Linked DNA regions of Homo sapiens. The protein of the gene in region 2 purifies or fractionates together with the protein of the main gene of each other region. This does not show direct contact. Each region holds a gene or a part of one and is shown on either strand. Other genes may lie near its edges. The genes, in order: SKAP2 and FYB2.

Region 1 (3,829 bases), on a different chromosome or scaffold from region 2:
GATTTTCCATCCCTGCCATCAGAAAGTATTGTCCATATGCTCATGATGATATACAAACCAAATGGTTCTTCTGAAAATTTAAAAATCTAAAGTGTTTACAGGGATTGCTATTAGTGTACTTTTGTGTTTTAAAGAATTCATATGGCTATTAAGCAAATCCTGGATATTGGACAAACAGCAATAAAGGTTTAGAAAAATGAAATTTCAGTTAAAAAAAATGTACTCCCCCACTCCCCAGGGAAGAAATCAAAGATTTTATATTAGAAACATGAATTTAGAATTCAGAACAAGTATTGCTTATGACATCAAATTTTATTGTGATGTATCAGGTGGAAATTTAGTCAACACTTTTCTTAAAGCAAAAGACTCAGGCTATGTGTATATTGAACGCTAGTAAATTCTAATTTCCCTTCTCCTTTTCCTTTTCCCCCACTTCCTCTCCCCTCTCCCTTCTTCCCATCTCTCTCTGTCTCCTTTTTGACCAGTAACATTTTAGAGTTGAAAGCTATGCTAAAGGTACCCATTTCTTTTCAGAATAATTTAACTTTTCTTAAGATTTTGTGAGCATCCATTCCTTATGTAAAGAGCATTTATTATGCCCAATGGAAGTGAGAGGGTTGTGGGACTACCCCTTAATGAGACCAGATCATTCCACAATTATCCACTTTAGATTAGTGGTTCACCAGGACTTGTTTACAGAGATAAGATTTCTGTTTGTAATTTTTGTTTTATGTACAAAATCCTATAATAAATAATTTATACCTTTATATGTACCAAGTTTATTTTGAAAAAAACTGGATACATTTATTGAACAGCTATTAAAATATGTACACTGACTTTCCCTAAAATTTCATATACATTTCAAAATCAGGGCTCTATTTTAAATATGTTTTAATGATACTGTGTGGTGTTTACTGGGTGAAGTTGATCCACCAAGGAGCTGAAATTAGTGCTCTAATTTTAAGCTTTATTTCTTAAGAAAAAATATCCATGACTTTATCACTACTGTGATCCCCATGGTATTAAAAAAAAAAACTGGTAAAATTAGGTGATGAGTTTGTAAATAATAAACTTCCTATCAAACCCATTCTTTTTTTTAATTTTTAATTTTTGTGGGTACACAATAGGCAAATTTATGGGCATATTGTATGTTTTGATACAGGCATACAATGCATGATAATCACATCAGGATAAATGAGGTATCCATCACCTCAACCATTTATTCTTTCTCTGTTACAAAGAATCCAATTATATTTGTTTAGTTATTTCATTTTATTAATTTATTTATTTATTTATTTATTTATTTATTTATTTATTTAGAGACAGGGTCTCACTCTATTACCCAGGCTGGAGCGCAGTGGCACAATCATGGCTCACTGCAGCCTTGACCTCTTGGGGGATCCTCCCACCTCAGACCCCCTTCCCCCCACCTCTACCCTCCTCCTCCACTGGCTGGGACTGCAGGCGCGTATACCACTACACCCAGTTATTTTTAAATTTTTCGTAGAGATGGGGGTCTCACTGTGTTACCCAAGCTGGTGTCAAACTCCTGGGCTCAAGCGACCCTCCTTCCTTAGCCTCCCAAAGTGCTGGGATTGTAGGCATGAGCCATTGCACCCGGCCACTTAGTTATTTTTAAATGTACAATAAATTATTGTTGACTATAGTCACTCTGTTGTGCTATCAAATACTAGATCTTATTCATTCTAATTACATGTTTGTACTCAAACACATTTTCTATCCTAAGTTGTACTGAAACTATTTCCACTGGATGTATTCCATACAAACTTTCTTTTGATTGGTTGTTTTCACTTGCTAGAGTTCTAGTAAAATGCTGAGGATAACTATTATATTTCTTTTCTTTTCTGTTTTCGTTTTTTTCTCTTTTTTTTCCCAGGCTGGATTGCAATGGCGTGATCTTGGCTCACTGCAACCTCTGCCTCCTGGGTTCGAGTGATTCTCCTGCGTCAGCTCCCAAGTAGCTGGGATTACAGGCACCCGCCACCATGCCTGGCTAATTTCTTTTGTAGTTTTAGTAGAGACCAGGTTTCACTGTGTTGGCCAGGCTGGTCTCGAACTCCTGTCCTCAAGTGATCCACCCGCCTCGGCCTCCAAAAGTGCTGGGATTACAAGCGTGAGCCACTGCGCCCGGCAGATAACTATTATATTTCTAATGAAGTTTATAAAAATATTGAACACTTGTAAAATTGAGTAACCTATAATCCATGACCGTGAATATACAATTTCTAATCAACTTAACTTTTGCTTGATTTAAAAACTTTTTTTAGGGATCCAGTATTTGTTTATAATAGTTTTATCAGATCTGTCTAGTTTTAGACTCTTAAATGCCCTATAAAAACCTAAAGCATACTCACTCAGTGGAATGTCCATAACATTTCTCTGAATACAAACACAGAGAATATTTGCTGTGGGCTCAGAGAAACAAGTTTCAGCATTTGATTCGGAAAAGCATTTTATGTTTTACTTGGTAGGAATAGGGATTATGCAGGAAAGAGTCAATATGTATTGAAATTTTTAAAGAGTTAATTCAATATAAATATAACGAAGCTATGATTTATTTGAAATTCTTAACCTCTCTTTCAGGGATTTATTGCATTTATTTATAATAGTTTCTCAGTCCTGTATTTTGGGAGGCTATAATAACATATAGGAGTACAGAACTTTTTTTTTTTTTTTTTTTTTTTTACTTTTGAGACTTTTAGGAGGAATAGAGGGGATTAATCTAGGGAATGGATCTGAAACAAAGCTAATAGACTTAGATTTAAACAATTTCAGTAATTAAAAGCACACTGAATCTAATGAGATCTGGCACTTGTTTATTCTGAAATGGATTACCCACTGCTTTTTTTTTTCTCTCCCCAACTTCTCATAGGAGCCCAGTTTCCTCCAATTGCAGCACAAGACCTTCCTTTTGTTCTAAAGGCTGGCTACCTTGAAAAACGCAGAAAAGGTAAACTGAAGGTTCTAATGAAAAATGTAAAAATAATTTCATCCTTAGATAGAACATGTTTGTAGTATACATGTGGAGGCAGTATTCGTTTTAGGTGATTAAAGAGTTTAAAGATTGTAAGAAAATCTGGATGACATTATCCAAACCACAAAATATAGCTCTTAGCTTTAAATAATTTTTAATAAGAAAACATTAGGTTAGGTTTTTAGTTGTCAACCTTGGTTATTTGTAAATGATTCAGGAGCTGTTTCCTGCCTCTCAAAGGAAAGCTGCAGGCCATGACTGTATTCTCAAAGGTGGGATTTCTCACCAGTATCTCAATGGGCTGAGCAGCAGGTTCTCCTATGCCCAAACTGGCATGCACCATGGTTCAGATCAAGCCTGGAGTTTTGTCTGCCATTGTCTATTATTCATTTCAGTGTTCCTCTCCATTGGCTATGATAATTGGGAGTTGACCATATGGTCTCACTCTTTCAACACCAATATTTAATGGAAATGAAATATGGAGGTGGTTTTATAATATGAGAAATGAAAAGCAGACAGTCTTTTCATTACCATTCTGCTTATCTCTCTTGTAGTCCCTTTAGGCCTTTCTATTTATATTTCATTTTGCTTTTCTTAGCTTTCTTAGCTGAATTTTAAAACTGAAAGAGATAACAGAAATAATCTAGGTTAGCTCCTCCCCTTCTTTTTATAACAGATGAGAAAATGAGACCCAGATGGATCAATTATCTCAAGACTGTATAGTCAGATACCTTTTTGACTGTCCCTGTCAGAAAACTTTGTTAGCCATGCTGTTGATCCCATAAGTATGGCAGCCCCATAGCTACTTTACTTTATTCCCTTTAGCTGTGTTGG
Region 2 (3,829 bases):
GGAGTGGAGAGAATCAAATGTTACTCTGATTGATCTTAGAATCTCAGAAGTTTAGAGGGAAAAACAACCTTAAATATCATTAAACCCAGTACACTCATTTTAAAAAGAAAATTGAAACATAGAGAAGTGACTCCTCTAAGATCATTGTGTGTTAAAGTTGAGTTTTGAACCTAAAAATCCTGACCCTGATATTCAAAATTCTTTCCATTAGACTCTGTTTCAGGATTGAATTAAAGTATAACTGTGTATGTTAAGCTTATGTGTTGGGCTAGGCCAAAGCCATGCTGTGAAGGGAGAGATTATTCAAGATATATCTCATTTTCCATGGTTGCCCCAGCATTCAGCGCAATGCCTGATGCTTAGTAAATTCTGATTGTTATGTATTAAATACAGGAAGGAGGGAGGGTGGAAGGAAGGAATCTATTGAAGAACCAACTTTCTTTGACTAAATCAGTTCAAATTTGGAATCAGGTGGAAATGAGTCTTAATTTTCATTTATACATACTTTTATAGAGGTTTAAGTATTTTTACCATATGCTTTTAAAAACATGTGGGTGAGTTTCAGTAAAAACTATTTAACAAAAGAAAGATCAAAGTACCTAGCATCTAGTAAGTATCTAATACTTTTTGTTAAATATGAATCTGAACTATTGCTATTATAATGAATATAAGTAGGGTTTTCTTCTAATTTCAGAAGAAAATAGAGAACTGTATGAAGATGTCTACAAAACAAAGAACAACTACCCAAAGATAGAGTGAGTTTCTCTCTTTCTTGGCTTTGTAGGCTAATGACTTCCTGTTAGTCTAGTAAAGCCAGAGTTTCAGTGAGGACCCACCATCCGCCCCCCAGCCCCACTGCCACCCCCGACTCCCATCATCATCTTTTAGGAAAGATTCACACTGAGAGTTATGATAACCTATTGTAATATTACAATTGTGATCAATAGGATACTTGTAATTGTGTACAATCATATACTATCAATATTAAATCACATTGTTCTCGCTTTTGAGAAATACCCATTTCCCAGAGTAAATGATTTTGATATTGGGTTAGAAAATAAGTAATAAAAGAGATGTAAATATTAATAAAACTTGCTTCAATTTTATAGCTGTTTTTCCAGGAACAAATTAATGGTTATGACTTACCTGTGTCTCTGTAAGTTAGTAAGGCTATCTCCGGGATTTGGGCTTAATATAACATGTAGTGTGATTCAGTGTTATCAAGAATAAAATTTGTTCAGATGGGTATTATTCTACAAGTTTAGTTATTAAGGACATGTTGTGGAAAAGAAAACGGCAATGGTCAAAAGCAAGGAGTTTAAGGGTTCAAGGGGAAAAAGACCCTGAACTGGGCATGCTGGTTGGCACGATGTGGGTATATCATTCCCTCACTCTACCCCCTAAAGGCCCCAAAAGGATATTTGACAGAATTGTAATCATCAGCTGGGTAATCAATGTACCATCACTGCTATATTATTCAGTAAATTAAAAATCAATGATAAGAATTTCAAGAGTCAGGATTTTCTATAACGTATTTCTAGCACAGTTTGTAAAGTACATTTCCCTGAGTTATCTTTTCCTCTAAAGGGAAGACTGCTTCATAAAATCTGCAAAATAGAGATTACTTGCAGTAGTTTGTCTTGAAATATCATTACTCCCTTCATAGTTGACTGGTGTGTGCAACTTCATATCACATCTAAACAAAGAAAAGCATAGAACTCAATAAGGCATCTTCTTGCTCTTTCTTGAGTGAGATGTGTTTTGGACATGAAAACAAAGCCTCTGGTTCTTTATTTTTTTTATGGACTCAGAGGTACCTGTGCAGGTTTGATACATAAATATATTGCCTAATGATGAGGTATGGGCTTCTAGTCTACCCATTACCCAAACAGTGAACATTTACCCAATAGGGAACTTTCCAACCTTCATTCTTCCTCCCACCCTCCCGCTTTTTGGAGTCCCCAGTGTCGGTTATTTCCATCTTTATGACCATGTATACCTATTGTTTAGCTCCCACTTACAAGTGAGAACATGTGGCATTTGATTTTATAATACAACAGCCTTCTATCTCTAGTACTCTCTTAAATGCCATGTTACTTATATCCTGTGATTCCTCTCAGTTTAGATGGAAAAGAAGCACTCAAAAGACTGCAGCAATTCTTCAAGAAAGAAAAGGATAGATTTAAAATAAAGAAAACCAAGTCGAAAGAAAACTTAAGGTAAAAAGTCCCTTTAAATCCCTTTCCACGAGGGGATTAACCTGGTAGATACACAAGTTGATGTTCTCCATCCAATCTCAGAAACAGTGAAGGGGATATCAGAAACTAAAACCAAGGGTCTGGCCATCATCTGCCCCTTTCTTGTGAATTTTTGATTGAACTACATGCACAGAGACTAATTAATGAGAAAGTGGCATGCTCCTTTGAAAAAATGGCAGAGAAAGGGTTGAAAATAAGGGTAGAGGGAAAATCTTAAGCGAAGTCCAGAAAGGAAACTTTCCTCATCAGCCTTAACATCCTATTCCTGTTGTTACCACTAAGCATTACTTACCATGTCCTTTTATGCTTTTGGGGCCCTACAAGCCCCAGTAGTTTTTATTTGTCTACTGTTCCATATTTAATTTATCTCCCTTGAGAGCAGCAATATGTGGAAGGGGGAGATGAGCTGCTCAGCTGAACAGTTCGTGTATTGCAAGGTCTTAGACCTGGAAAAGATCCTCTGAGATAACCTAGGCTAACTGCCAGTTTTGAGAGAGGTTCCAAATTCACTAGCACTAGAAAGAGATGTGAGGGGACCTGGATTCTATATTCTAGTACCAGTTCTGCCATTTATTCCATGTACAACTGTGGGCATATCACTTCCTTTATACACCCACAGCATTCCACTTTTCTCCTGCATATAATGGAAGGGGGACCCTGGAGACGCTTTGCAGGCAATAGATAGATATAGATGTAGATATTCAGGTGCACCTCAATTTATGATGGGGTTGTGTCTCAATAAACTCATTGCAACTCTAAAATATGTTAAGTTAAAAGTCCATTTAATACATCTACCAAACATCATCGCTTAGCCTAGCTCATCTTAAACATGCTTGGAATATTTACATCAGCCTACAGTTGGGCAAAAGCATCTAACACAAAGCCTGTCTATAAAAAGTGTTGACTATCTCATGTAATTTATTGAATACTGTACTGAAAGTGGAAAAAGAATGGTCTTAAGGATACTTGAAGTAGGTTTCTACTGAATGCGTATTGCTTTCACACCACTGTAAAGCAGAAAAATTGGGAGTCAAACCATTGTAAGGCTGGGAACATCTGTGTAGATATACAGACATAGAGATGTATTTTGTGAGGGCAGAAGATGCTAAAATAATTTGCCCAAGGTAATTACCTATAGTGAGATGGAATTATGTTGTTCTACCCTGAAGTTCTTTTTGATTATAAAGCCTCAGAGTTTTGTGGCTTTAAGTTCAACTGTCAATTGGATCTAGATCTACCAAGAGACCCTACAAAACATGAGGTTTATAAATTGTAGTCCTGATATGGAAGAAGAGGGAGTGTGGTCAGCGAGACCCTATGCACAAAGGCAGACCCTGGCCTTAGCAGATTAGATGTTTTCTGAGAGAAAATTATTGGCATGATAACCGGCAGTCCCATAATATTTGATCAAGATGAGAATGCTAATGTTTTAAATATGCAAATCTGATTACCTTTCTCTCAAAACTATTCATTGGCTACATACTACGTTTAGAATAAATATCCAGTTCCTTACCCTGGCAAGTAAATACTTCATGGCTGTCCCCATTCTACTTCTCTAGTTCTGTCTCTCA

Evidence for each region.
Region 1: the proteins of FYB2 (region 2) and SKAP2 purify together in Homo sapiens (affinity purification with mass spectrometry; one large-scale study listed by BioGRID and IntAct). This does not show direct contact.

What each region holds. Positions count from the first base shown.
Region 1 is NC_000007.14:26,739,029-26,742,857, reverse strand, and holds part of SKAP2 (src kinase-associated phosphoprotein 2), read left to right. Parts: intron 1-486; exon of another isoform or gene 487-516; intron 517-2,893; coding exon 2,894-2,971; intron 2,972-3,829. UniProt on the Homo sapiens protein: May be involved in B-cell and macrophage adhesion processes. In B-cells, may act by coupling the B-cell receptor (BCR) to integrin activation. May play a role in src signaling pathway.
Region 2 is NC_000001.11:56,739,087-56,742,915, reverse strand, and holds part of FYB2 (FYN-binding protein 2), read left to right. Parts: intron 1-694; coding exon 695-755; intron 756-2,120; coding exon 2,121-2,219; exon of another isoform or gene 2,220-3,829. UniProt on the Homo sapiens protein: Adapter protein that plays a role in T-cell receptor (TCR)-mediated activation of signaling pathways. Required for T-cell activation and integrin-mediated T-cell adhesion in response to TCR stimulation.